Homo sapiens: one gene and its partners. The protein of the gene in region 3 purifies or fractionates together with the protein of the main gene of each other region. This does not show direct contact. Each region holds a gene or a part of one and is shown on either strand. Other genes may lie near its edges.

Region 1 (3,050 bases), on a different chromosome or scaffold from region 3:
CTTGGTTCTATTAATGTAACAGGTGTGCTAACCAACCATTCCCGGCCCAATCACCCTAATCGTGCTGACTATATGGAATGGATTCCCTTCGATAGTTACTACCCCCCAAGACATGGACCCAATGTCTTGACCCACTGGCTAGAAAACAATCTATGTTAACTGGAGACATTGTGGATTGGGGACCTAAAGGTCAACTATATGGAAAACATGAAAATCAGAAATCATGGCACAAACTTCGCTGGCATTGGTGGCAAGATTTTAATGCTTCTTCTTTATACCACACCGGGATCTAATCCCAGTCTGCCACCCAGATTGCTTGACATGGAGCAGGCTTTAGCCCGCCTCTTCCTCAGTGGCATTATCTAGGGAGGAAAGGACCAATCCAAGAGATGTTATGGAAGGCAGCACTCCCATTTATGAATGGCGGGATACTATCCAGTGATAGCAATAGTAAGCAACACAGTCTTAATGTTACATTTGTAAAGAATATCACCACTCAATTTATGGTTTGTCTTTTTAATCCTTATGTCTTTTTTGGCAACTAAGAAGGACCAGCTCCAGGTAAACAATATCCAATTGACCTGTAAATCTTGCCAGTTATGTCACTGCATTAATCATAGCACATTGCAAACACATAATGTCTCTACTTTGATAATTTTGGGTCGCATCCCTGGGCTATGGATTCCTGTTAATCTGTCCCAGCCTTGGGCTACCACACCTGCTTTGCACTTCATGAAACATCTTCTAACTCAACTTACTCATTGTGCCCATAGAGCCTTAGGCATGATAATTTTTGCTATTGTTTCCTTGGTCACATTAATAACTTCCGTTGTGATGTCCTCTGTAGCTTTGCATAGTTCTATTCAAACAACTCAGTACATGGAAAACTGGATGCGTATAGCCAACCAAGCATGGCCACTTCAGAATAAAATTAACACTGAGTTACAAACTGAAGTGGCATTGTTGAAATCCACGGCTCTACAGTTAGGAGAACAAGTACAAAGCTTGCAATTGCAACAGCAATTGCACCATCATTTTAATCACACTCATATTTGTGTAACCAACTTAGAATATAACCAAAGTGAGTATCCATGGGACCTTGTGAAAGCCCATTTGCAGGGAGCTTGCACATCCAACATCACCTTTGATATCGGTGAATTACAAAACAAAATTCTTGATTTAAATAAACAAACTCAAGAGTTTCAGCCTTCTTTAGAAGACTAGACCAAATTCCAGCAAGGCCTGGAGAGCCTCAACCCTTGGACCTGTCTAAAGCACCACATTAACATCTTATATGTAGTCCTTGGAATAATGTTGTTTTGTCTCTGTCTTCTGTTCATAGTCTGTAAAATTGGATGGACTGCCAATCAGAAAATGAGAGCTGCCCAGCCTGGCCTTACATTCTTTCAATTAATTCATAAACAGAAAGGGGGAAATGTAGAGAGCTGAATGCCCATGGGTTGTGACCAACTCAGCATTCCACTGAGGCTATATGATCAAACAGCAAACTGTTTATCATAAATGCAGAATGTGGGCAAACTCACTTCTGCTTCAGCCGCCAGAAGGTTCGCTGAGGGCAATCACTCCCTGGCGCCATGCTCTTTGAGGTTATCTACTGAGACATCTAGAGCCTACTGTTCAAAGAATGCAATCTTGTGAGCCTGCTGTGAATCAAGCTGCTGACCGACAACCACCCCCCCTTCTCCCTATCTCCTTTACCCAATAAATACAAAGGGCACTAAAGCTCAGGGCCCTTTTTCACTAGAAGCAAGGAGCCCCCTGACCCCTTCTTCCAAATATACTCTTTGGTCTTTATCTTTATTGCTGTGTTCGTCCCCTTTTGTTCAGTCCAACAGGGATTAGGTCCACGTCACCTTTTAAACAACCAGCTCTTGAGTGAACTCATTACCATGGGGGAGGACACCAAGCCATTCATGAGGGATCCACCCCCATGATCCTAACACCTCACACCTTGCCCCACCTCCAACACTGAAGATTACATTTTAACATGAGATTTTGAGGGGATAAATATCCGTACTATCAGAGAGGTTACTTCAAATGTTCAGGTGCATGACATTTTGATATAGCTTTAAAAATAAGCTATTAGGGCTGTGCCCAGTGTCTCATGCCTGTAATCCTAGCACTTGAGAGGCCAAGCCAGCAGGATGACTTGAGGCCAGGAGTTCGAGACCAGCCTGAGCAACATAGCAAGACTCCATCTCTCTCTCTCTCTCTCAAAAAAAAAAAAAAATATATATATATATGCATGGTAGTGCACGCCTATAATCCCAGCTACTCAGGAGGCTGAGGTGGGAGGATCACTTGAGCCCAGAAGTTCAAGACCAGCCTAAACAACACAGTGAGACCCCATCTCTACAAAAAATAAGCCATTAGACTCTCAGGTTATTATTTTTATTATTGCCAGGTATCCTCACCCTTACTCCTGGCATGGAAGATACAGTAGGAGTCATAGATGGCTGTAGGTCAGGTGCTGTCTCATAAGTAAGCCATATCGCCAGGCATCACATCTATGCTCTCACTCTAATATATGTATATTGTAACCCCTTCTATGTGCCAAGGCAGGAGGATCACTTCAAGCCAGGAGCTGAAGACCAGCCTGAGCTACATAGTGAAACCCTGACTCTCCAAAAATAATTAGCTGACTGTGGTGGCACATGCTTGTAGTACCAGCTATTTGGGAGGCTGAGGCAGAAGAATCACCTGAGCCTAGGAGGTAGAGGCTGCAGTGAGCTATGATCGCACCACTGCACTCCAGCCTGGACGACGGAGTTAGACCCTGTCATTAAAAAATATAAAAAATGAAAATATTGTTAAGAAGCTCTTGAGAAGGCTCCAAGTACAGTTCCTGGCATGTAGTGGGTGCACAGTTAATACTTCTTGGGGCCACAGGATTGGGCATCAGATTTACATTTCACTGAAACTTTCTATACCATCTGCATCTATTTCCTTTTGAAAAATGTAAATAAAATCAATACAAATGAACAAATGTCAGCTCTGTTTTATCCTTCACAGAATAAGCCAAATGAGAG
Region 2 (3,500 bases), on a different chromosome or scaffold from region 3:
ATACTGTAGGTAGAGAATAATTTAAAACCCCTTTTAGTAGGTCATTAAGTAAGATGCTTAGATTATCACTTTTGGGGGATGTTTTCAGGGCTGGAGAAGAGGACCTTCCTCAGTTAAAAACAGACAAAAAATTTACTCCTTATCCATTCTGCTTAATTGGGCTAAATGAAATCCTTCTATTTTTTTCAATAGAGCTAAAATTTTTAATCTTCAGTTCTCTAAATCCTTTTTAAAAATGTGGTTCCATCTTAAAATTAAATTACATTATTTTAAAAAATGTAGTTAGGAAGTTAAAATGTGATGTTAAAATATAATTATTAAAATATAACTAGTTCCAATCTAAAAAGAAATTATAAGATTGCATTATTGAATTTCAAAGACCATTTTCTGAAGACTTTTCCTTAAAACTTACTAAGATATTAAACCTGTATGTTTTATTCATATGCATTGATAGATATTTACATTCACAGGTATTGTATTTACAACTAACGATTTTTCAATTTACTACTGTAGATCATACCTCACTCCTGTTAGGGATGAAGAGTCTGAATCCCAAAGAAAAGCAAGATCTAGACAAGCAAGACAATCTAGAAGATCAACACAGGTATAGTTAATGTAATTAATATATAAAACTTACATAAGTAGCATATAAAATATATATACACACACTGACATAAAACAAGTTACCTTTCTCTTTTTCACTTTGTTGTGAAAATATTGATGTCAGTATATAGTGTGAGTAAATCCTTAAAAGGTAAAGGTTGCTGTAGTTATTCTAGTAATTCTAGTGTGAATAAATCCTTAAAAGGTAAAGGTTGCTCATAGCCTTTTGTATGGTTACACTGCTACTATTGTATTTCATCTAATTAGCATATGCCTTTGTGTCTTTTTGAGTATTTTTTAAATCCTTATTCCTAATACAGTGTCTGGCCCAGAGTATTTGGTTAGAATAAATTAATCATATGATGTCTAATAAGTATTTAAAAGTTCTATGAATATTTGGAAATCGGGGGCAGAGAATAGGCTCGTATATTAGGTATAAACAACTAATATGCAAGTATGAAGAAAATGTCATTCAGGCTGGCGATCTCCTTACCTCCGTTTTGCCATTCTGATTATGCTGTATATGATGTATACTTTTGTGTCTTTCTGCTTTCCCACAGTTAAGAAGCTCCACAGTCCAGATTCAGCTGTCTATCCTTACCATTACTTAGCTTTCAAGCTGAACTATTTGCTAGGGCCTTAATATACTTTTTCTGTCTTTATACTTTTCACTTCTTGAAATCTAACCTGTTCTTCAAGGTCAAATCTTGAAAAATTTATCGAAATCTCTTTTAAGCCTTAACAATCATCATGCATGTGTATATAGATACATATACACACATATATATACACACACACAGACATATATATAAACATAAATATTTATAATATACAAACAGTACAGATACTGGCTATTCTTCTCTAGTTTGAACTTGTGGGGAACATTTATATGCATAGAGTATCCAGTACCTATCGTTGTGCTTGCTAATGGTGATTCTTCATAGAATGAATGTAACTTGCTGTTTCCATTTGCAAACCAATTTTAAACATGCATATTTGACTTTTAATGCATTTGTATGTAATATATCTATTTCTAAAATATTCCTTGAAACAAGCTTTAATGCATCTCATAATTATATTGATCTTTTTGTGTGTGCAGGGAGTGACATTAACTGATCTTCAAGAAGCTGAGAAAACAATAGGAAGAAGTCGTTCTACCCGAACCAGAGAACAAGAAAATGAAGAAAAAGAAAAAGAGGAAAAAGAGAAACAAGATAAAGAGAAACAAGAAGAAAAGAAGGAGTCAGAAACATCTAGAGAAGATGAATATAAACAAAAGTACTCCAGAACGTATGATGAGGTAACAGTATATCAAAAGCACATTTAAGTCAAATGGTATGAATAGTCCTTATGATCCTTAACATACAAGAGATTTATATACCAACAAACCATATGCAAAATACTGTAAAGGATTTTAGCTGGAAATTTGAATTACTTTGGCGTGATTAGTATACTACTTTTTCTTTGAAATGAATTTTTAAGTATTTTTATGTTTTTAATTGTGTTTAATGTTTCAAATGGGTTTTGATCTTAATGTTTCACAGACTTACCAGCGTTATAGGCCAGTATCAACTTCAAGTTCAACCACTCCATCCTCTTCACTTTCTACTATGAGCAGTTCACTGTATGCTTCAAGTCAACTAAACAGGCCAAATAGTCTTGTAGGCATAACTTCTGCTTACTCCAGAGGAATAACAAAAGAAAATGAAAGAGGTAAGAATACCAAATTTTGAAAACACTTTGCTTTCTTCATATAATCCTTTGGATTAGGGTTTCCTAAATAATAATTCAACAGTAAAGGAACAGCATCCTAACTTGTGATTCATCGAACCTAAACAGAAAGAATATGAAGGTTGAGAATGAGAAAAGTAGAAAACAGAAATAGAATATGGCCTGCTGTTGATACTAATATTTTTATAACCTAATACTTCACAAAAATCTTCATGTCCACCTACAACGAAAAGTTAATATCGAACTGGTGGGTGACTATTTCTAGAAGCAGTTTACTAGTGTAGTACTTCTCAGATGCTTTAAGCTATTTCTTGCCTACTGTGTAGATCATATCATTTAAATGTTTTTTTGTGAAATTGTTGTAAACTAAAATTACTAACTACATGTAATGCTCTCACTAAAACACATTTTTATGCTTATTTCTTAAAAAATACATTTCTTTCTCAACTATATATTGGCATATTGATACTCATTACCATTTCCTATTATTTTATATAAACTTTCTATTTAAATTCTGAGTAATTCCTACTTTAAATCAGATATAAGTACTAAATATAGGCATTTCATATTTTAAAGCCTAAATCTTACAGTATTAGTCATGATAATATCAGTAGTAATGTAGAATAAACAGCAGAAAATAAAGTTTTTTCCCAATTTCCAGCTATATATTTTCTCATGTTGATCATTGAGATGTTTCAGTTCTTTAAACTTCTATGTGTGAGGCCTGCATTGTGTTTGTAAAAATGTTGAACCAACATTTAAAATTAGAGATACTCACTTCAAACTTCAGATTTTTGCCATTTCTTGAAAAGTTGGCTGACCTGGCAACACTGGATCTGAATTCTCACATACCAACAATTGGCTGGAGCTAAGTAGTAGCAGCTGCCTACCTTCCATCCCCCTAGATAGTCCCCTGGCCCATTTTACCCATTGTTTTTACAATTACCTTGCAAAATATTGTCAAGATATATTGCTATATTGTGGTTCATTGCAATCCTTAACAGAGGGAGAAAAAAGAGAAGAGGAGAAAGAAGGAGAAGATAAATCACAACCTAAATCAATCAGAGAACGACGACGACCAAGAGAGAAAAGAAGATCTACAGGAGTTTCATTTTGGACACAAGATGTGAGAACCTATTAAAATACATTATTTGATAGTATTCTTG
Region 3 (3,500 bases):
CCCTCCTCTCCCCACCATCCAAGAATGTGAAATACCAGCAAACAAAAGTCTCATCCAAATTAGGAAGCGAGTAGCTCTGTCTGCCCGTGAGTGTGTGCTGTAGGGGCTGTTTTGGGATTTTGGGTTTCCCGACAGATCCCTTCAAACCCACAGTGCTATCAAGACTGAAGTTATTGTTGACCCCAACTCAGAGCTCCGTGCCATCTGGTCACTGCACACCGTTCCCCAAACCTAAGATGCTTCTCTAAACAGCTCTTTACTCAGAGCTTCTCCCTGGCTCCAGCCTCTGTGTCCCCCACCTCCAAGCCTGTAGACAGAGCCCTCTCCATGCCGGAGCTTGGAATTAACTCAGGCTCAGGTCTCCTCTGGGGAGCCACAGGTGGCGGTGCCATGAGAGGGCTCTGCCAGATGGGTGCCGAGATGTGGGCATGTGCCACAAGGACCAGGATCCCAGCCCTTAGCCCCAGCCTTGGTGCATGTACCCAAGGCCCCTGAGCCGGGACCTATCCTTGAGTTAGCAGGAAACAGGGACGCGGCCCTCCTACCCAGCAGGCCCTCCTACCTGCTAAACCAGGTTAGCAGCCTACCTATGGGCTGCTAACAGGGGTCAGCGAGACCAACGCTCCATGAGCTAGGAGTGGCCCTGGTACAGAGGCCCCTTCTTCCCCAACCCCCATGCTCATTTACCTTCCTGGGAGAGGATGATGAACTTGGTGGTCTTGAGGGTCTTTCCGTTCAGCGTCCAGATGATGGTGGCTGGGGGGTCAGAAGACACCTGGCACTGGAGCAGCAGCTTCTTGCCCTCTGCCACATGAACATCTTGCAGCTTCTGCTTGAAGGCTGGGGCTGTCCCCTGGCTCTCTGATCTCTTTTCATTATCTGTGGTCCCTGCATGGCCTCTCTTGCAGTTCACATCATTCTTAACGTCTTTCTTGAGTTCTTCTTTGCTAGCGGATTTCAGGTTCTCATCAGGCTTGGCATTGCCCATGGGCTTCAGGGTCTCGGCAGGCTTGGCGTTGCCCATTGGCTTCAGGGTCTCAGCAGGCTTGGCGTTGCCCACGGGTTTCAAGGGCCCTGAAGGCTGTGCATTGCTCAGGGGCTTGGAACTCTCCACTGCCTTGGCATTCAGGGTCTCGGCACTGCTGCTGCCATTCTCTGCTGGTAATTTCTTCTTGCCACCCAGCACTGAGCGAAAATCCGGGGTGGCAGGTTTTGGCGGTGGCACCTTCTCAGGCACGGGGGTCTTGGAAGTCCCCTTCTTGGCCAGGACAGAGCGAAAATCGACCTGCTGGGGGCTGTGCACCTTCCTCTCTTCCTCAGACACAGTCTTTGGCTTCACTTGCCGCTGCAGGTTGGCACGGAAATCCATCTGCTCGGCTGGGATCTCCTTCAGGTCGTCTTCCGATAGGGTCTTTGTACTCACCTTCTTCCCCAGGAGGTCTCGGAAGTCCAGCTGCTCCACCTCCTGCTGGCGGATCGCCTCCTCAGTGTGCTGCCTCGTCTCCACGCGCCTCTTCAGCACCCCTCGCACGTCCTCGCCGTCTTCCTCCTCTAGCCAACCCTGCCCTCTTGCTGGCCAGCCAGGCCTCAGGGACCCATAGCGGTCACTACCACCACCATCAGCACCAACTCCTCCACCACAGAGGTCCTCGCAGCTGGCAGGCTCCCTCCCCCTGCAACCAGTGTAGGGAAAAAGGAAAGTAGCAGGAGGAAAAGGGGCTGGGTAAGAAAGAAACTTCAGGGGAGAGCAAATCCCTGAGGGTGGGAGGGTAGAGGGGAGCGGGAGGGGATGGGGGAGGCCGGCCAGGCTGTGTTTATAGATGGGAACATTGGTGAGAGGCGCTCGCTTGCTTAGTTGGTTTATTACATCGGTAATGACTTCAGTAGCCTTATAAGGGTGTGTGCAAAAAAAAAAAAAAAAAAAATCACCCCCTCCTTCCCCTGCTCTCCCTCCCTCATTCCCCTTCCAGGCTCTCCCTTCTGGCTTTGGCAGCCTCAGCTGCAGGACACAAACAATCTAGGGCTGCTGGGCTGGAGCTGCCGGGGCCAGGAGGAAGGTGGGGATGGGGGCATGGCCTGGAGGGGCAGCTCCTGGGGGCACTCACCGTGGAAGGGCTCTGGCAGAGCTGTTCTGTAGCATCAGTGACACCTGGCAACTGCATTCGCCAACCCGGTTCCTGAAGAATTCCAAAGATCAATAAAGATCAAGAGGCCCTCTGGGCAAAGGGCCTGTTCAGTGTGGACTTGATCACAGGCTGCTGGCCAGCGGGGAAGATGGAAGTCGCCGGCTTGACTGAGACATTCACCCCAGCCTTAGATTTAGGGCAGGACCCTCTCACTGTGTGGTCACCCTTTATTTTCTCAGCTCTTATTTAAAAAGAAGAAGAAAAAAAGAATGTCTGGACAACAGCTAAGGCAGGCATCCAGAAATAGGAACACTTTTCTGTAAGTATATAATATAATCATTCAATCAATCACTCACTCACTCAACCAATAAAAGGGGAAGGAGAAAGGCTAACCCTGCTGGGAACTGTGATGTAGCAGGTTGGTCTAGACAGATAGGCCCTGGTGGTGGGCCTGCCCAGTGACCTTGACTCTGACTCCATGATCCCTTAACACAGAAGTAGTTCCTTTCCCTCTCTTGCTCGGGAATGGAAGCACCCTTAACCCCCACTCATTGATAATGCTCTCAGATCAGAACTTTTTGTGTTAAAAACCCAACAAGTGTTTTCCTACATGAGTGGCCCTTTCTCTTCTTCCTTCAGGTGGGGAGGGCTCTGGATTCTTCATGTCCATAAACCTGGTCAGTCTCCTGCTGGTGCACAGAGGCTCAGGCCCTCTGCTCAGGGGAGGGGCTGTACCCTGTCTGGCTACAGTGCAGTGGATTTGCAGCAGATTGTCCCTCCAACCCCATAAGGCTGCCACCTGCTGGCATTTCTGAGCTCTGACCAGACAAGAAGGTTCTGCTCAGGCTAGGGGAAGGGGTGGGGGCAGGTCTGCGAGCCAGAGGTGACTAGTGATGGTTGTAACAACTGCATTTCATACAGCACCCTCCAGCTTTCATGACACCCACACGCAGTTCTTTCTTGATATCCACAGCATGCCAGAGAGGTATAGAGTACTGCCATGCCCAATTTAAAGATAAGGAAAGGGGGCTCTGGGGTGGGACCCTCAGGGTCTCTGACAACAGTGCTCCCACTCATGCCCCTGGATGTGGCCGTCTCACTAGCACTCAGACCCAATAGCAGATGTGCCAAGCTCTGTGACAGATTCTTTACATGAGCCATCTCATTTAATCTTAGAACAGCTCTGTGAGATTAGAGTCACCACTGTTTTTATAAGGTAAGAAATATGAGGCTTATAAAGGTAAAGTAGTCCAGGCGCAGTGGTTCATGCCTGTAATCCCAGCACTTTGGGAGGCTGAAGTGGGAGGATTGCTTGAGCTCGCACGTTTGACACCAGCTTGGGCAACATAGCAAGACCTTACCTCTATTAAAAAA
Region 4 (3,500 bases), on a different chromosome or scaffold from region 3:
AACTACATAATTCTAACAAGGTAATATAAATGTTTTAAATGGATGGCAAAGCCACAGTAAAACATCCACCTTAGAGGAGGAACTGTTTACTATAGACTAGATTGGACAGTGAGGGCTTTAAGAAGGAGGATAACATGTTAATGAATGTATAGGATTCAACTCAGTAGAAAGGAGGGAAAGGACATTCTGGGTGAGGGGATGTAGACTTTCTAGTCTGTAGAAAGACATGAGCAACAGAACATAAAATGAATTGGAGGGCTCAGTTTACTACTATGGGTGAGTACCGAGATCAACTCTAGATGCTCCCCAGTGTTCTTGGTTTCTTGCAGCCCAGAAAGAGAGCTTCCCCACCACCCTCTTCCCCATCTTTCATATGCCACAAACCCACTGGCTTTTGACTCTTCATGTATGAGACAAGTGAGCCTTAAGTCTCCCCATCGTTCCTGAATTCTTGGCTAGAACAGCTAAAGAAACAGAAGGAAAAATGCTTTTGACTTTTGTGTTACTTCACTTTTTTTTTCAATTCGGAATTTTTGCACGCAAGTTGCTAAACTGGAAAGGGTCACTTTGTTAATACCTGTGTCTACTTTCCTGTGAGATTCTGTGGTAAAGAGCACTGCTCTGGGGTTTCCAACACATAGCCGTGCAGACTACTTTGTACCTACCTTATTATCTTTTGCTTCTATTTGTTTAGCAGATTCTTGTATTCTTCTTTGTAACTCTGTGATTGTTGTTAAGGACTTATCACATCGTTCCTTCTGATCCTTAATTTCTTGCTCAATGCTGAAATGCAGTAATTCCTTCTCATCTTTTGCAGATATTTCCTTCTTTTTGGCATGCAAAACTTCCTCACATACTTCCTCATACTTTCTATTCAGATTGGCCAATTTTTCATTTAAGCTAGAAATCTGTGTCTCCAAATCACTTTTTGTTGCTTTATATTTAGACAAGTCAACTACCTCTCTAGTCTCTAATTTTTTTAATGCTTGTTTAGTATTCTGAACCTCCGACTGAAGTTTGGAGACTTCTTCCATTTTGTTTTGGCTTTCTTCTTCCTTTTCTCTCAAGCTGGCTTTTATGATTCCAACTTCTTTCTCAAATGCTTCTTTAATCTGCAAATGCTCTGCCAGGGGTACAGAAGAGTTCTTTTGATTCTCCAACAATTGATGCAGTTTGGTCACTGTCTGCTGCTCTTTCTCGTAACACCTTTGCATACTCTTCAGTTCTTCCTTTAGATTTTCAATTGTGCCATTAAGAGATTTTTTCAGAGCCTCAACCTGTTCCAATGGAACATGTTGTTTTTGCAAAAGATTTTGCACTGCAAGTATCTCAGAAGTCTGTTTGGCATTTTCTTCTACTAGCTTCTCTTTCACATTCTTTACTTCCGTGTATTTCTGTGACAAGTCTTTTAACTGTTTGTTTAGCTCGTCTGTTTTTCTGCTTAATGCTCTTTCCATTTCATGAGACTTCTCAATGAGAACTGTCTTATCTCTCAAATCTTTCTGAAGGGTAAAAATCTCCTTCTTTAACTTGTCATTCTCTTGCTTGTTTTTCTTGACTTCTTCTTCACTGACACTATACTTTTGTGTCTGCTCTGATAACTGGTCTTTTAGTTCTTTCTCTGTTGCTTTAAATTTTCTCTCGCACTCCTCAAAGCTGACAATTGGGGCGTATTTTACCTTAATGCATTCTTGTATTGTGTCGAGCTCCTTCTTCTGGGCTTTAATTTCGGCATGCAGTGTCACAATCTCTTCTTGGCCTTTTCTGTAGTTGGCCAAGATTTCAGCATTACTATCCTGCACCTTTCTCATGCTCTGACTTAGCGAGCTCATCTTTGCCTCGTGCTCTGCCAGGCTGATGTACTCAGCTTTTATTTGGTTCTGAGTGTTTTCCAGGTTTCTTTTTAATATTTCATTCTTATCTTTTATTTTTACAAATTCCTGATTTATATCTTCAAATTTTTTCTTCACATCTAATAATTCTCTGTTAGTTTTGGCTAACGTGTCATTCAGTGTCATTTTAACCTCTTCATGGGTTTTAACTGGCACATACTGATTACTCATCATCTTCTTCAAGTTAGTGTTTTCAGATGTGAGAGCGTGTATTTTCTCCTGGTCTTCACCACATTTTTTCTTAAGTTCAGACAGCTGTTTCTTAAGTTCAACAATATTGGATTTCAGAGCTATTATCTCTTTTTCATGTTTCTCAGGAGGTACAAACACAGTTTCTAGGCGGCTTACATCCTTACTTAAGCTGTCATTTTCCAGTAGCAATTTCTCCATTTCCAACTTCTTTTCTGTATATTTTTGTGTTACATCTAAAAGCTTTCTATTAAGATCATCAATAATTGCATCATGTGACTTTTTCATGTCTTCACTTACTTTTAAAGGAACATAATGATTTTTCATTTCAATTGTTAAGTTATGTGCTTGCTCCTTGAGGAGCTTATTATCCAAATAAACTTTTTCAATTTCCTTTTGTAGTGTCTGATTTTTCAATGTTAACTCAGTGATCTTCTTCCCAAGTTCTCCTGATTTCTGTTCTAATCTGCTCTTAACCTGTTCATGTTCCTCTGGTTTGACGTGCTGAGCAAGCTTGGCCTTAACATTCTCAAGTTCTCTCTTTAACTGTCTAATTTCACTAAGTGATTTTTCATGTTCTCTTTCCATTTCTACTAATTTTTTTGCTTTCTCATTCACTTCATTTGATAATGAGCTCTTCATGTTTTCAAATTTTTCAGCTGGAATGGAAAGGGCCAACTTCGCTGACAATTCTTTTGCCTGGCCTTCCATCTCTGTGACCTTTCTTCCTTTCTTCTCTCGCTCCATTTCACACATACTAAGTTCCTTCTGTAATCGCTTATTTTCTTCTATCAGCTTGCCTTCATCCCTCTTAAACTCTTCTACTATCATCTCATTTTGTTTGATTTGGTTTCTTAATTTCCCCACTTCTGCTGAAGCACCTTCATATTTTACTTTCAAGTCTTTCAACTGATCCTTCAGTTCCTCGGTTAGTCTGTGATTCCCTGAGGCTGCTTCACTTGTTAAGTGTTCTTTAAGGGCAAGAAAATGGGTCTGCATTTGTTTAACTTTACCTTCTGACTCATACATCCTCTTCTGCACATCTTTTAATGCATCTTCTAATTGCTTTATCTGTTCATCTGAATCCTCCTTGACCCTTTCACATTCTAATGCTAAAGCTTTGCATTCTGCCACTTTGTGTGCCAGTTCATTTTGGAGCTTCAGTCGGTCTTGTTTTGCTGACTCACAGAAAGTTCGCATTGCTTCTAACTCTTTCTTTAAAATTTCATTTTCAGAGTATGACGTTTGACTGGGTAAAGATAGTTCCAGAGGTCTTAACATAGATCTGCTTTGCATATGGGCTGGTATACCTGGGGAAGTACACTGAAAAGAAAAAAAAAAAGACATCAATCACAAAAGCCTAAATGAGACATTTACTATACTTATTTGCCAAACTTAGAGAAAGTTAGCACATCATCA
Region 5 (3,500 bases), on a different chromosome or scaffold from region 3:
AAACATATACACAAAACCTCAGTAAATCTAAAATTCTGAATGGAAAATTTTAGGGATACTTAGAGGCATTTTCCATTTTTTCTAATAAAGGGCATGCCTTTGGATAAGAAAATGAGATGAACGTGTGGCTTCAACAGTATCAAAATGTAAGAAATAATTTTCTAAACCATGAGTAATTACTAAAACAATGAGCTTCAAGCAAGGGATAAAATTACACTCCACAAGTATCAAAATAAATCAGCAGATGATTCAACAGCCAAATTAAGAAAGTTTTCAATGTAAATGAAGAAGGAGAAATTATTTTAGCTATGTTGGAAAGTTAACTATCACAGAGAAAAAAAGCATGCTAAAAAAAAAATTAGGACAACAGTGGAAAAGTATCCAGTAATTCCCATGAAAAACAACATATTAGGGAGTTCTATATTCAGGCAGAGAGAGAGAGAGAGATCGGTGTAAAGAAAATAGGTATAATCACAGTATTGGTTTTTTGTTTTTTGCCCAAGGAAGTAAATAAAATTTAAGAGGTGAGCCTCAGTAGACCTCATGACTAAACATGGTGTTGGAGAAATGTACTTTGCCTAAACGGAATAGCCAACAGATGAGGTGAGACACCAGCAACATATATACATGAGCACATGCATCTTCCCAGGGAGACGTGCAGTTTTGATCACATTCTTAGGGTGGTCTGTGACCCAACAAAAGGATAAGAACTACTTCTAATATAGAAAGTATTCCTGCAATTGGTAAAAGGTCAGAATAAATTATCTCTGTGGTCTCTTTTTTGTCTTCTCTAAAATTTGTCAGCTTAAATATTATACAAATTATAAAACTTTAGGCCTATAGGCAAACTGAGAAAAGCAAGGACAGAAAAGTCAGGACCTGCTCATGAGGTTCTAAGAATAATAGCATGAAATCAGGGTCCAAGCAGAGGCAGATCAAGTAGCCAGTGAGAAAGTGCTCATCAAGTTATCTGCCCCGAAGTCTCCACACCAGTGCTGAACACTACCCATCATCAGTCACTCCTGTGGTTTTAGCTATTAAATCCAGAAAAGTAGTTTCCAAGGTCAGACAAATTGAATGCCTATTAACACGGACTTGTTAGTTTGGGCTGAAATAAAGGGTTAGTCACAAAAGAGAGAAGAAAATAAAAATGCAAAAAAAGAGACGCTATACAGGACAGAATTAACCTCTGCTTCATTACAATGTGGCCAGGGTCAGCATAATGGGAAATGCAACAGTCATTAAACACTGAAAGAAGGACAGCGACCACCTAGGTTACTCTGATAACATCTCTAGAGTACTCACCTGGGCCAAAACACTTTCCATTTCTGATTTCTTTTCGACAGAACACTTCTTATCAGACATCAATTTCTGTAAATGAGCTGTAAGAACAGTGTTGACATATATCAATCAATGGGAAAAAGGACAATGCACTTTTCAGTTTCAATGCTAGACAATTAAAAAGTAAATCCAAGCATAAAGTTCTTAATTTACATGAATCCCACAGTTGATTTTACAACAGCAGTCATGGTATTGTCTTGATTCATTTGCTAATTAGAAAAATTATCTGTATATAACTAATTATCTACATATAACTTTTTTAAAAAATAAAGGACTTGATCTATATACTTAAGATCTGTGCACTTTGCTCTTTGAATGTTATGCCTCAATAAAAAATTTAATGAAAGACATCTGAGAGAAAGTTTAAACCTTTTATTTTGATCAATCCTACCTGAAGGAGATGAAGAACCTCACCTTTTAATAGATGGTCAGCACGAAAACATTCTCCATTTTTTACGTCTTTCACCATGAAGTCAGCAAATTTGTCTACATGGCCAGAGGTCCTAAATTAACAAATGCCAACCCAATTTGTCATTCTCATACAAATTACACATAGATATTACCTTATAAGATAATTCCCCATCAATATTTATATCCATCTCAAAGATGGAAGCTCCCATATCTATAGTAATGATGTATCCATGACAGTAATGGATGCCAGAGAAAATTCTTCCTCAAATCTATTTCTCACCCTCTCCCACATTCTTCCTTCCCATAAGAAAGAAGACATTAACTAGACAATAAAAAGACAATTCTTTTCTACAAGTTGTCATAAAGTCTGTACTATTCTTCAGGATCAATTAATCCATGCCTATGCCATTATTATTAGTGATCTAAGCAAAGGCCAAAATCACTGGGAATTTGACTAGTTAAGAATTCATGGCAGCTCAGTATAGACATTGAACCTTAAGGGAAGTGTTTTCTGCCACTGAAACCTGTACTGACATTGGTATTATCTCTACAAAGTTCCTATTGGTGGAACAAGTAGCTAAAATGATAGGTAGTCCTGATCTTATAGAGCCATCATTCAGAATTCCTCCTCTTCATTGGCTGAAATTATTAAGAGAACCTAACGGATGCCAATAGTAAAAATTAGCTCTCCACCAGTCAACCTTAAATGAATAATGACGAGTTACAAAATGGCAAGAATTCCTCTTTCAGGCCGGGCGCAGTGGCTCACGCCTGTAATCCCAGCACTTTGGGAGGCCGAGGCAGGCGGATCACGAGGTCAGGAGATCGAGACCATGGTGAAACCCCGTCTCTACTAAAAATACAAAAAAATTAGCCAGGCACGGTGGCAGGTGCCTGTAGTCCCAGCTGCTCTGGAGGCTGAGGCAAGAGAATGGCGTGAACCCGAGAGGCGGAGCTTGCAGTGAGCAGAGATCGCCCCACTGCACTCCAGCCTGGGGGACAGAGCGAGACTCCATCTCAAAAAATAAATAAATAAATAAAAGAATTCCTTTCAGTTTCACATTCTGAAATTCTGCCCTACTTTGGGAGGCCGAGGCGGGCGGATCACGAGGTCAGGAGATCGAGACCACCCTGGCTAACATGGTGAAACCCCGTCTGTACTAAAAATACAAAAAAAAAATTAGCCAGACGTGGTGGTGGGTGCCTGTAGTCCCAGCTACTTGGGAGGCTGAGGCAGGAGAATGGCGTGAACCTGGGAGGCAGAGCTTGCAGTGAGCCGAGATCAAGCCACTGCATTCCAGCTTGGGCGACAGAGCAAGACTCCATCTCACACACACAAAAAAAGGAAATTCTGCCCTACTTTCAATAACGTTGGTAGGAATAATCTAAGTTTCTGCATTGAAACTTTAAAACAAATAGTATTTAACTGAAAATCTCTACAAGTATACCTTTGCTCAGAACTTGTATTAAGGAAATAATCAAGGATATACCCAAAAATCCATCTATCAAGATATTCGGTGCAGTCAAAAATGAGAAACACTTTAATGCTTTCAATATGGCACAAACTAACATATTATGGCACTTCCATAAAACAGAATACTATGCTATCATTAAAAATGCTTTAGATGAATAGTTAATGATATGAGTATATGTTCATCAATATTACATGAAAATAAGCAGTGTACTGCTAACACTGAAATACATAGGGACGTACAGAAAAAACAGGAAGGACAAACACAATCATCTTA
Region 6 (3,500 bases), on a different chromosome or scaffold from region 3:
TCACAGAATACTCCGGTGTGTGTTTAAGCCCTTCCAACACTTGGCCTTGCCCATCTCTGCAAAGTCAGAGGGTGGAGACCTCATCGTCTACTACCTCCATTCCCACATGCCCCACTGTCACATCCCCCAAGCACTCTCTGACCATAGGCTAAGCCAAACAGCACCTCTGTCAAAAAATGCCACCCCAGTTGAAGAGCCGTTCTTTCCTTCTCCTGCCTCCCCTCAGAGCTGAGGCTCCTACCTTATTCTGGCACGAAGCCAGTCTGCTGGTGGCACAGTACTTACACGTCTGCCTGCCTGTCCGTCTCTCTCTGTCACACACAAACTCCCTGAGGGCAGCAATGGTGTCTCATTCATACATTATACAAAATTAGAAGCTTAAAAAAAAAAAAAAGCCAAGCAAATGAACGCATTCCCACAGCCTGGAATAGTGACCTCTCATTCCAGAAGGTGGGAAACTGAAAGTTATGAAAGAGCCTGATGGAGACTCCAAGAACATAGCCTTTATGTGGCTTTTACATATGTATTCCAAACACCCAGGACAGGGCCAGGCACATGAGAGGCACTCAAGGATATGTTGAGTAAATGGCTCAAGTGTGCCAGGACCGTTTCACCAAGACCAACAGGAGGTAAGTTAAAACCACTAGATGTTCAGCTCAGGGTGCTTGCTGAGCCACGGCAATCACAGAGCTAAGAATCCGCCATTTGGTAACCTACACGAGACTCAGAGTCAAAACCAATACATTTCGCCTACTATGGCAGCAGCCTAGGGGAGATTCCCTGAAACACCACAAGCAAGATGGTTCTGAGTAATTTTCTTTGTCTCCAAGCTATGAAAAGACTCGCTGGCTCTCAGGAAAAGAACATGCAATGAGGAACACTTGAAAGAAAGAGACAAACAGGAGCCTTGTAAAGAGAACAGCATTGATGCTTGTTCCCATTAGCTGACTAAATGACACTATTGCCCAGACAAGCCCTCACATACATGCACACGTGCTAAAAGTCATGGCACATGCATGCGCGTGCACACACACACAGACACGCACACACACCACATACACGATCATCCCCTCAGGAGAGCATTATTTTCATCAGATATATCTACTGAAACAGGAGTTCCCTGACCCCCCTCCCCCCCCGCTTGCAGGATGTGCCACAGTGGTGTAACTTGTCTGTTTGGTGACCGTGCATGCTTAAACCCCTTACGGGAAGGGGAGCACACAGATGGGCAGGTGCAGGAGCTGGGATGAGTGCCCCTAGGCTTCAGCCTCACGGCAACGTCCAGGGGTGTGTATCTGCGACTCCTGAAACCCAAGTGGGTGTGTGTTACAGTGCGCTCTTTTAACCTTGCGGTCCACAGGCAGCTTAAGGGTTAGACAGCTCAGTGAACCCTCTGCCTTTCCACAAAGGCAGAGGGCCAGTGTGAAAGTTTTCTGTTTCCCTGTTTCTTCTCTGGCATCCAGGAAAAATCAGATCACACGTGGACTTGAAGGATGAATGTGGGGCTTTTATTGGGTGATGGAGGTGGCTCCCAGTGGGATGGATGGGGAGGTGGAAGAAGGATGGAGTGGGAAGATGGTCTTCCCCTGGAGTTTGGCTGTCCAGTGACATATCTCCTCTCCGATCATGTCCAGGTAAACTCCCTCTTAGCATTCAGATGCTCCTTCTCTCTGTTGCGCCGTTCTGCTATTCTTCTGCTCTTCTGTTCATCTCCTTGTCTCCTTCTGGAGCCTGGGGTCTCAGGTTTATATGGATACAGGAGAGGGGGGTGTGGTGGGCCAATAGGCAGCTTTTGGATGCAAAAACAGGAATGCCTGTTCCCATTTAGGGCTGTGGGTTTCCAGGCTTGAGGGTGGGGCCTTTGCTGGGAACCGCCCTCTTCTACCCACTGTTTCTGCCTCCTGTCCGTGTCACTACTTCATATAATAAAATTATGGGATTGAACATTTTTTCCCATTTTCTGGCAAGAATAGTAGGAACTATGCTTTTAGCTCCCCAGCCAAGCTAAGAAATTCTATAGTCACCCCCCATTATCTGCAGACCCCCAACTGGATGGCTGAAACCACAGATAGTACTGAACCTTATATATACTATGCTTTTCTCATCTCATAATCATAACAGCTACTAAGTGACTCACGGGTGGGTAGCAGAGACAGCATGGACACACGGGGCAAAGAGATGATTCACGTCCTGGGTGAGACGGGGTGAGATTTCACCATGCTATGCAGAGCAGTGTGAAATTTAAAACTTATAAATGGCTTATTTCTGGAATTTTCCATTTAATGTTTTTGGATCAAGGTTGACTGGGGCTAACTAAAAATGCAGAAGGCAAAATCACAGATAAGGGGGACCACTGTACTTATTTTATTCTATGCTCAGGCTCAGTACAATCGGCCACCTATTAATAGTTGTAAAAATGACAAAGAAAGTGGCAGTTTGAGAGATACAAAGAAGTGGCCAGGACCAGTTAAAAAAATAATAATAACTTCAATTTAGATGAAAAGAATATAATAATATTGGTATTTCTGAAACTCTGGTTTCAAATCAACCTTCATGGTGAAGCATATATGATATAAAATAACATAGAAGGAAGTTTCAATTTAAAACTTCAACCTATTAAACAATTAATCTTGAATCTCATTTACAATTTAGAGTACAATACAGTGAAATGAATTTCTTATCTATCTCTAAATGGTTTTCAGAAGTTTGAGTTATAATCTAATTGCCCTAATATAATTTCAAATATCTAGGGAAGGGAGGCTGGCAGTCCGGAGAACTCATTGCGTCATCCTCCAACATTCAGCATTTTCCACAAAAGTTCCATCTCAAAAATTTAACTGGTCTTGTTTCATTTAAGCTTTATAAAAGTGTTCAATTTTAAAATAAAAATGAGATTATGATCTTATTCAATCAAAACTGAGAATCTCTCAACATCACACACATAAAAAAACAGGAGAATGAATTTCACCAATGTAAAAGGAATATAAAAGTCATTTTAAGAGGTAAATTAACTTTCTCCATGCCCTTGGTAACCATTTGACAAATCACTTCCCTTCACCCTCTAAGAGATACCCACATCCTGAGCGAGAAGATAGATGGACCTGCAGACAGGGAGAAAACTGAACTGGGAAGGTGGTTCTCACCAGTCCTAGGGTTAGGGCACTTTACCCCTGAGCTGGGGGTGCTGTGGAGACAGAAAGAAGCCCTGGGCTTTGGGGGAAGATGATCCATCTGAATGCTCTGATCAGTGGCTGGGATCTACCTTCAAACGTAACAGCATCAAAACCAGACAGTATTGTTACAATCATAATTAGATGTGTTAAACAGAAGTTGTGAAGCTTGTGGTCTCTGAATAAGCCTGTGGCTTCATTCTGTTCTTAGCTCCACGTGGAAGATGCCATCCGAAGCAGCATTCAGGGACAATCCTGCAACTAGGAACAACTTCCTGTTGACCTTACTAGGTCTTAGGCTAGGACTGGGGATTTGGTTATGACCTACCA
Region 7 (4,200 bases), on a different chromosome or scaffold from region 3:
CCAGCACTTTGGGAGGCCGAGGCGGGCAGATCACGAGGTCAGGAGATCGAGACCATCCTGGCTAACACGGTGAAACCCCGTCTCTACTAAAAAATACAAAAAAAATTAGCCGGGCGTGGTGGCGGGTGCCTGTAGTCCCAGCTACTCGGGAGGCTGAGGCAGGAGAATGGCTGGAACCCGGGAGGCGGAGCTTGCAGTGAGCAGAGATCGCGCCACTGCACTCCAGCCTGGGAGACAGAGCAAGACTCCATTTCAACAACAACAACGACAACAAAAAAAAAAAAAAAAAGAAAGAAAAATTGCAGGTCTGTGCAGGTTTAAAATGGAAAGATGATAAAATAAGTTTTATATTTCTGATAAGATTATTTTGGTTTTGACCATTTGCCAAATGAACAGGGGTAGTGAGAGAGAGAGAGAGAGAGAGAGAGAGAGAGAGAGAGAGAGGGAGAGAGAGAGAGGGAATCACCACAAAGGTTTTCTGGTTCTAAATACGGCTCCATTTTACAAACAAGAACACTGGCTCAAAGAAGTAACTTGCCCATTTGTATCATTAAGTAATAGAGCTGGGAAATTACAACAGGTCTCTCTGGAACCCTGAGGCCTATGACCCCTTTTCTACAACACTGGGAAGAGAGTAGGCAACTGTTCTCTATTTCCCTGAGTATATATGGTATGTACATCTACATACAAGTAATCTAAAATCTCAACCCAAAAGTTGGGAAACAGAACCGGATTGTGAAGAGAAGCTACAGAATTACCTTTCTCAGGAATGATCTGTCCCTGACTCACTCAGAACAGCACAGGGGTTATTAGTATTGGCTATAGGATACTGGGTTTGAGGAAGGAAAAAAACGGGGATACTGGGTTTGAGCAAGTTACTGTTCCTACGCCTGCTTTCTCATCTGTATAATGGAGATAATAACAGAACCCACTTCACAGCGTTATTAAGAAGACTGAATGAGGCCGGGCGCGGTGGATCACGCCTGTAATCCAAGAACTTTGGGAGGCCGAGACGGGCGGATCACGAGGTCAGGAGATCGAGACCATCCTGGCTAACACGGTGAAACCCCGTCTCTACTAAAAATACAAAAAATTAGCCAGGCCTGGTGGCTGAGGCAGGAGAATGGCATGAACCCGGGAGGTGGAGCTTGCAGTGAGCCGAGATCGCACCACGGCACTCCAGCCTGAGTGACAGAGCGAGACTCCGTCTCAAAAAAAAGAAGACTGAATGAGTTAATTCATGGAATGCATTAATACAGTGCCAAACTCGTATTTAGTACTCAAAATAAATATTAACTATTGTATAATTATTACAGGAAGGAAAAATTACATATGTGTTAACCATACATATCACGTCCAATTAAGAATAGCACAGGAGAATATTTATGGACATGGAAAGTTGTTGACCACATTCTATTAAGCAAAAAAAAAAAAAAAAAAAAAAGTTACAAAACAGTAAAAATATCATTTTATGTGAAAAAAATCTACGTATAGTCACCATTTATCATCTAGAATTAAATTTACATAGTTAGAATGTGCCCGTATGCAGTTTCTCCATTCAATCTCGAGTGGACAATCAAGAAAAAAATTTGGCTTTTAAGTGAACTGTCCTGTCACAGACTTGGGATAGAGGATCCCTTAGCTGAAGACGTCACCACTTCTCACTTGGACTATTACAACAGCCTTCTGCATGTGGCCTAACCTTCTATCCCAATGCCAGCGTGACTTTTACAAATACAATCTTCCTGCTTAAGATCCTTCATGTATAGAATACAAGTTTCAAACATCCTTGTTGCCTAAGATCCTTCTGATTACTGTTCCTTTAACCCTTCTGGCATATCTCTTGCAAACAACCCGAAAGACAATTCACCTGCGTGCCCCTTTTCACTGCCTTCCCTACCTTTACGTGGGAAGCCCCGTCCTGCCTGTTTACCTGGTGAAATCATTCTTCCAAACTAAATTCTAAAGTGCCTTCCTAAACTTCCTCTTCTGTAATACCACAAGGTTGATCACAAAGCACTAGGGCTGTTTTCCTGTCTCTTACACATCAGCCTGTGAGGCCCTCAAAGTCGGGGAACTGGGCCCTATTCATCTTCCCACATGCACCGCCCAGATCAGTGCCGGGCAAAATGTATACTTAACCACCCAAACTTGGACAAGCTGGGTCAGATCTCGGGCACTCGGTTTTCCTTTCCTTAAAATGGAGCTCTTTACCCCCGCAGGATCTTAGGAGATTGATTAAATAAGGCTCTGCAATGTGTTTCCCGCTTACAGTAAGCCATAAACGCAAGTTTGGAAGCCTCAAGCCTAAGATTCTGATTCTGTCTCCGCGTCTAACTACTGTAGATGTGAGGCTCTGAACAAGTCGCTCACTCAAGGTCTGTTTCCTCATCTGTAAAGAGAATGGACCCACAGATGAACTGCAAGGCCCCACCCTAATTTATGAATGGATGGTTCCCAAAGGGGGTTCCGACTTTCCAGGAGTCCCACCATCCCCCACTTCTCCGACCCACGCGGTCCCGGCCGCTTCCTGCTTCCTGCCCCCCGCTCCCGCCGCGAGCGTAGCGTCTGCACCCACTAGAGTCCCAGGCTGGTCTCTGGGTCCCACCAAGTTTGCTCACCGGCTTCTCCTCGCCTCCCATCTTCCCTGAAGGACTGCTGGCCTTCTCCTCAAACATTGGCGAACGACGAAGCGATGAGAGAACCCGAAAGCGACGGCCTAGAGGAGAGGAGCCAAGAGGCGGGTGGGAGGTGGGCTAGCGCCCGGGACTTGGCCTCGGCTGGACCAGCTGATGCAATCGAAAGGCGCCCTAACCCCGCCCCCAACTTGCGGCGGAACGAGCAGCCAATGGATAACGGGGGAAGGCGGGCCCTCCCTCCTCTAAGCCAGTGGAAAATCTTTTCGGGTGACAGAGCCCTTCTAGGAAATCAGGTCGCGGAGGGTGAGGAGGAGCAACTGCAGAAGCTACATGCCTACTCTCCGCTGACCTTGGTCTGGACGCTTTCCAGAGTCAAGTCCCCAATGCGCGTGCGCCTTTCCTCCCTTCTGACTTTATGTGGAACAATCATGGACCTTCCCGGACACCGTAGATAATAAGTAGGTCTTGGTCTAAACTTCCGGGAAGTTTTCGGCGACCTGGATACCATCTTCGACACGGGGACAAATCCCGGGATGGAGTCCAGGGTTTCCCGCGGCTTCGGCGCTTCCTGACCTGGCGTGACTGCCGACTTGTCGGCACCACCCAGGCCTCAGGCTCCCTGTCTGTAGTGGTGAATCGACCTTCCTCATGGCAGTCCAGGCTTCCCAAGCCCCATGTCCTGTTGATCCGGGACAAACTCTTCCTTGAACGTTCTTCACTACGAGCCGCTGCTGATCTGTACTGCCTGGAGGAGCATTTCCATAGCGCCCGCAAAAATACAATAAAGCTCACCCAAGGAAATAACCATGGATTCTCACGCCTGGGTGCCAGTGTTTGGAATCGACTGGGCTTTTTTATGTTAGTAGGCAATTTAAAACAATTACTTATTTGAAATCAGAAGCGCAATAGGCATAACTTCAGGTACGTGCTCCACCACCACGTTTTGTGGATTTTTCTTTTTAAACATCAGTTCTGTTCTCTACAACTCTCCGCCTTCAGGGTTATACTTTCCAGGAACAATAGCTTCCCAATTCGGCTTTGTGCATCCATTTTTCATACAGCATCGTTGTAGTCTTCAAATACAAATATGATCACGGCAATCTGCTGAAAAATCTTTGGTGGCTTTCCCTTGCTCTTGGACAATCCCTGATTGTCCAAGTTTTCGGCTTCATCTCGTTCGCCCACCATACACTGAACTATAAACTGTAGTGGCTTTTTTTCCTCAGGTCTTCCCACAGACTAAGTACCAAGATTTTTCCACCCTACCCTCATCCGTGCTCATTCCGACACACTTTTTGCCTGTTTGACACCTCATTTATTGTCAGATTTCAAGAATCGTTTTCTTCGGGGAACCATTTCTTGACTCCCTTACTGGATGAAACAAGCCTCCCTGTTAAACAGTGTTGGAGGCGCAGAAACATACCCCCAAATAATGGCGTTTTGACATCTGAACTGAAGAAGCCTCAAGGTCCCACTCCCCTAAATCCCCACGCCATCTCTGCCAAAGCAAAGGATAAAGTTTAGACACATCACAAGGAACATAATTGTTTTTGTTGCCTCC

What was found.
Region 1: the proteins of MYLK (region 3) and ALDH2 purify together in Homo sapiens (affinity purification with mass spectrometry; one large-scale study listed by BioGRID and IntAct). This does not show direct contact.
Region 2: the proteins of MYLK (region 3) and PPP1R12A purify together in Homo sapiens (affinity purification with mass spectrometry, with the first as the bait; one large-scale study listed by BioGRID). This does not show direct contact.
Region 4: the proteins of MYLK (region 3) and UACA purify together in Homo sapiens (affinity purification with mass spectrometry, with the first as the bait; one large-scale study listed by BioGRID). This does not show direct contact.
Region 5: the proteins of MYLK (region 3) and GARS1 purify together in Homo sapiens (affinity purification with mass spectrometry; one large-scale study listed by BioGRID and IntAct). This does not show direct contact.
Region 6: the proteins of MYLK (region 3) and RHBDD1 purify together in Homo sapiens (affinity purification with mass spectrometry, with the first as the bait; one large-scale study listed by BioGRID). This does not show direct contact.
Region 7: the proteins of MYLK (region 3) and TARS1 purify together in Homo sapiens (affinity purification with mass spectrometry; one large-scale study listed by BioGRID and IntAct). This does not show direct contact.

What each region holds. Positions count from the first base shown.
Region 1 is NC_000012.12:111,814,983-111,818,032, reverse strand, and holds the end of ALDH2 (aldehyde dehydrogenase, mitochondrial isoform 1 precursor), read right to left. Parts: 3' UTR 501-3,050; downstream 1-500. UniProt on the Homo sapiens protein: Required for clearance of cellular formaldehyde, a cytotoxic and carcinogenic metabolite that induces DNA damage.
Region 2 is NC_000012.12:79,795,598-79,799,097, reverse strand, and holds part of PPP1R12A (protein phosphatase 1 regulatory subunit 12A), read left to right. Parts: intron 1-513; coding exon 514-604; intron 605-1,702; coding exon 1,703-1,903; intron 1,904-2,147; coding exon 2,148-2,316; intron 2,317-3,338; coding exon 3,339-3,460; intron 3,461-3,500. UniProt on the Homo sapiens protein: Key regulator of protein phosphatase 1C (PPP1C). Mediates binding to myosin. As part of the PPP1C complex, involved in dephosphorylation of PLK1. Capable of inhibiting HIF1AN-dependent suppression of HIF1A activity.
Region 3 is NC_000003.12:123,699,333-123,702,832, forward strand, and holds part of MYLK (myosin light chain kinase, smooth muscle), read right to left. Parts: intron 2,446-3,500; exon of another isoform or gene 2,178-2,445; coding exon 2,106-2,177; exon of another isoform or gene 1,978-2,105; intron 1,674-1,977; coding exon 688-1,673; intron 1-687. UniProt on the Homo sapiens protein: Calcium/calmodulin-dependent myosin light chain kinase implicated in smooth muscle contraction via phosphorylation of myosin light chains (MLC). Also regulates actin-myosin interaction through a non-kinase activity.
Region 4 is NC_000015.10:70,666,059-70,669,558, forward strand, and holds part of UACA (uveal autoantigen with coiled-coil domains and ankyrin repeats), read right to left. Parts: intron 3,405-3,500; coding exon 666-3,404; intron 1-665. UniProt on the Homo sapiens protein: Regulates APAF1 expression and plays an important role in the regulation of stress-induced apoptosis. Promotes apoptosis by regulating three pathways, apoptosome up-regulation, LGALS3/galectin-3 down-regulation and NF-kappa-B inactivation.
Region 5 is NC_000007.14:30,601,378-30,604,877, reverse strand, and holds part of GARS1 (glycine--tRNA ligase isoform 1 precursor), read right to left. Parts: intron 1,845-3,500; coding exon 1,756-1,844; intron 1,383-1,755; coding exon 1,306-1,382; intron 1-1,305. UniProt on the Homo sapiens protein: Catalyzes the ATP-dependent ligation of glycine to the 3'-end of its cognate tRNA, via the formation of an aminoacyl-adenylate intermediate (Gly-AMP).
Region 6 is NC_000002.12:226,902,054-226,905,553, reverse strand, and holds part of RHBDD1 (rhomboid-related protein 4), read right to left. Parts: intron 1-3,500. UniProt on the Homo sapiens protein: Intramembrane-cleaving serine protease that cleaves single transmembrane or multi-pass membrane proteins in the hydrophobic plane of the membrane, luminal loops and juxtamembrane regions.
Region 7 is NC_000005.10:33,439,565-33,443,764, reverse strand, and holds the start of TARS1 (threonine--tRNA ligase 1, cytoplasmic), read right to left. Parts: upstream 2,801-4,200; 5' UTR 2,679-2,800; coding exon 2,622-2,678; intron 1-2,621. UniProt on the Homo sapiens protein: Catalyzes the attachment of threonine to tRNA(Thr) in a two-step reaction: threonine is first activated by ATP to form Thr-AMP and then transferred to the acceptor end of tRNA(Thr).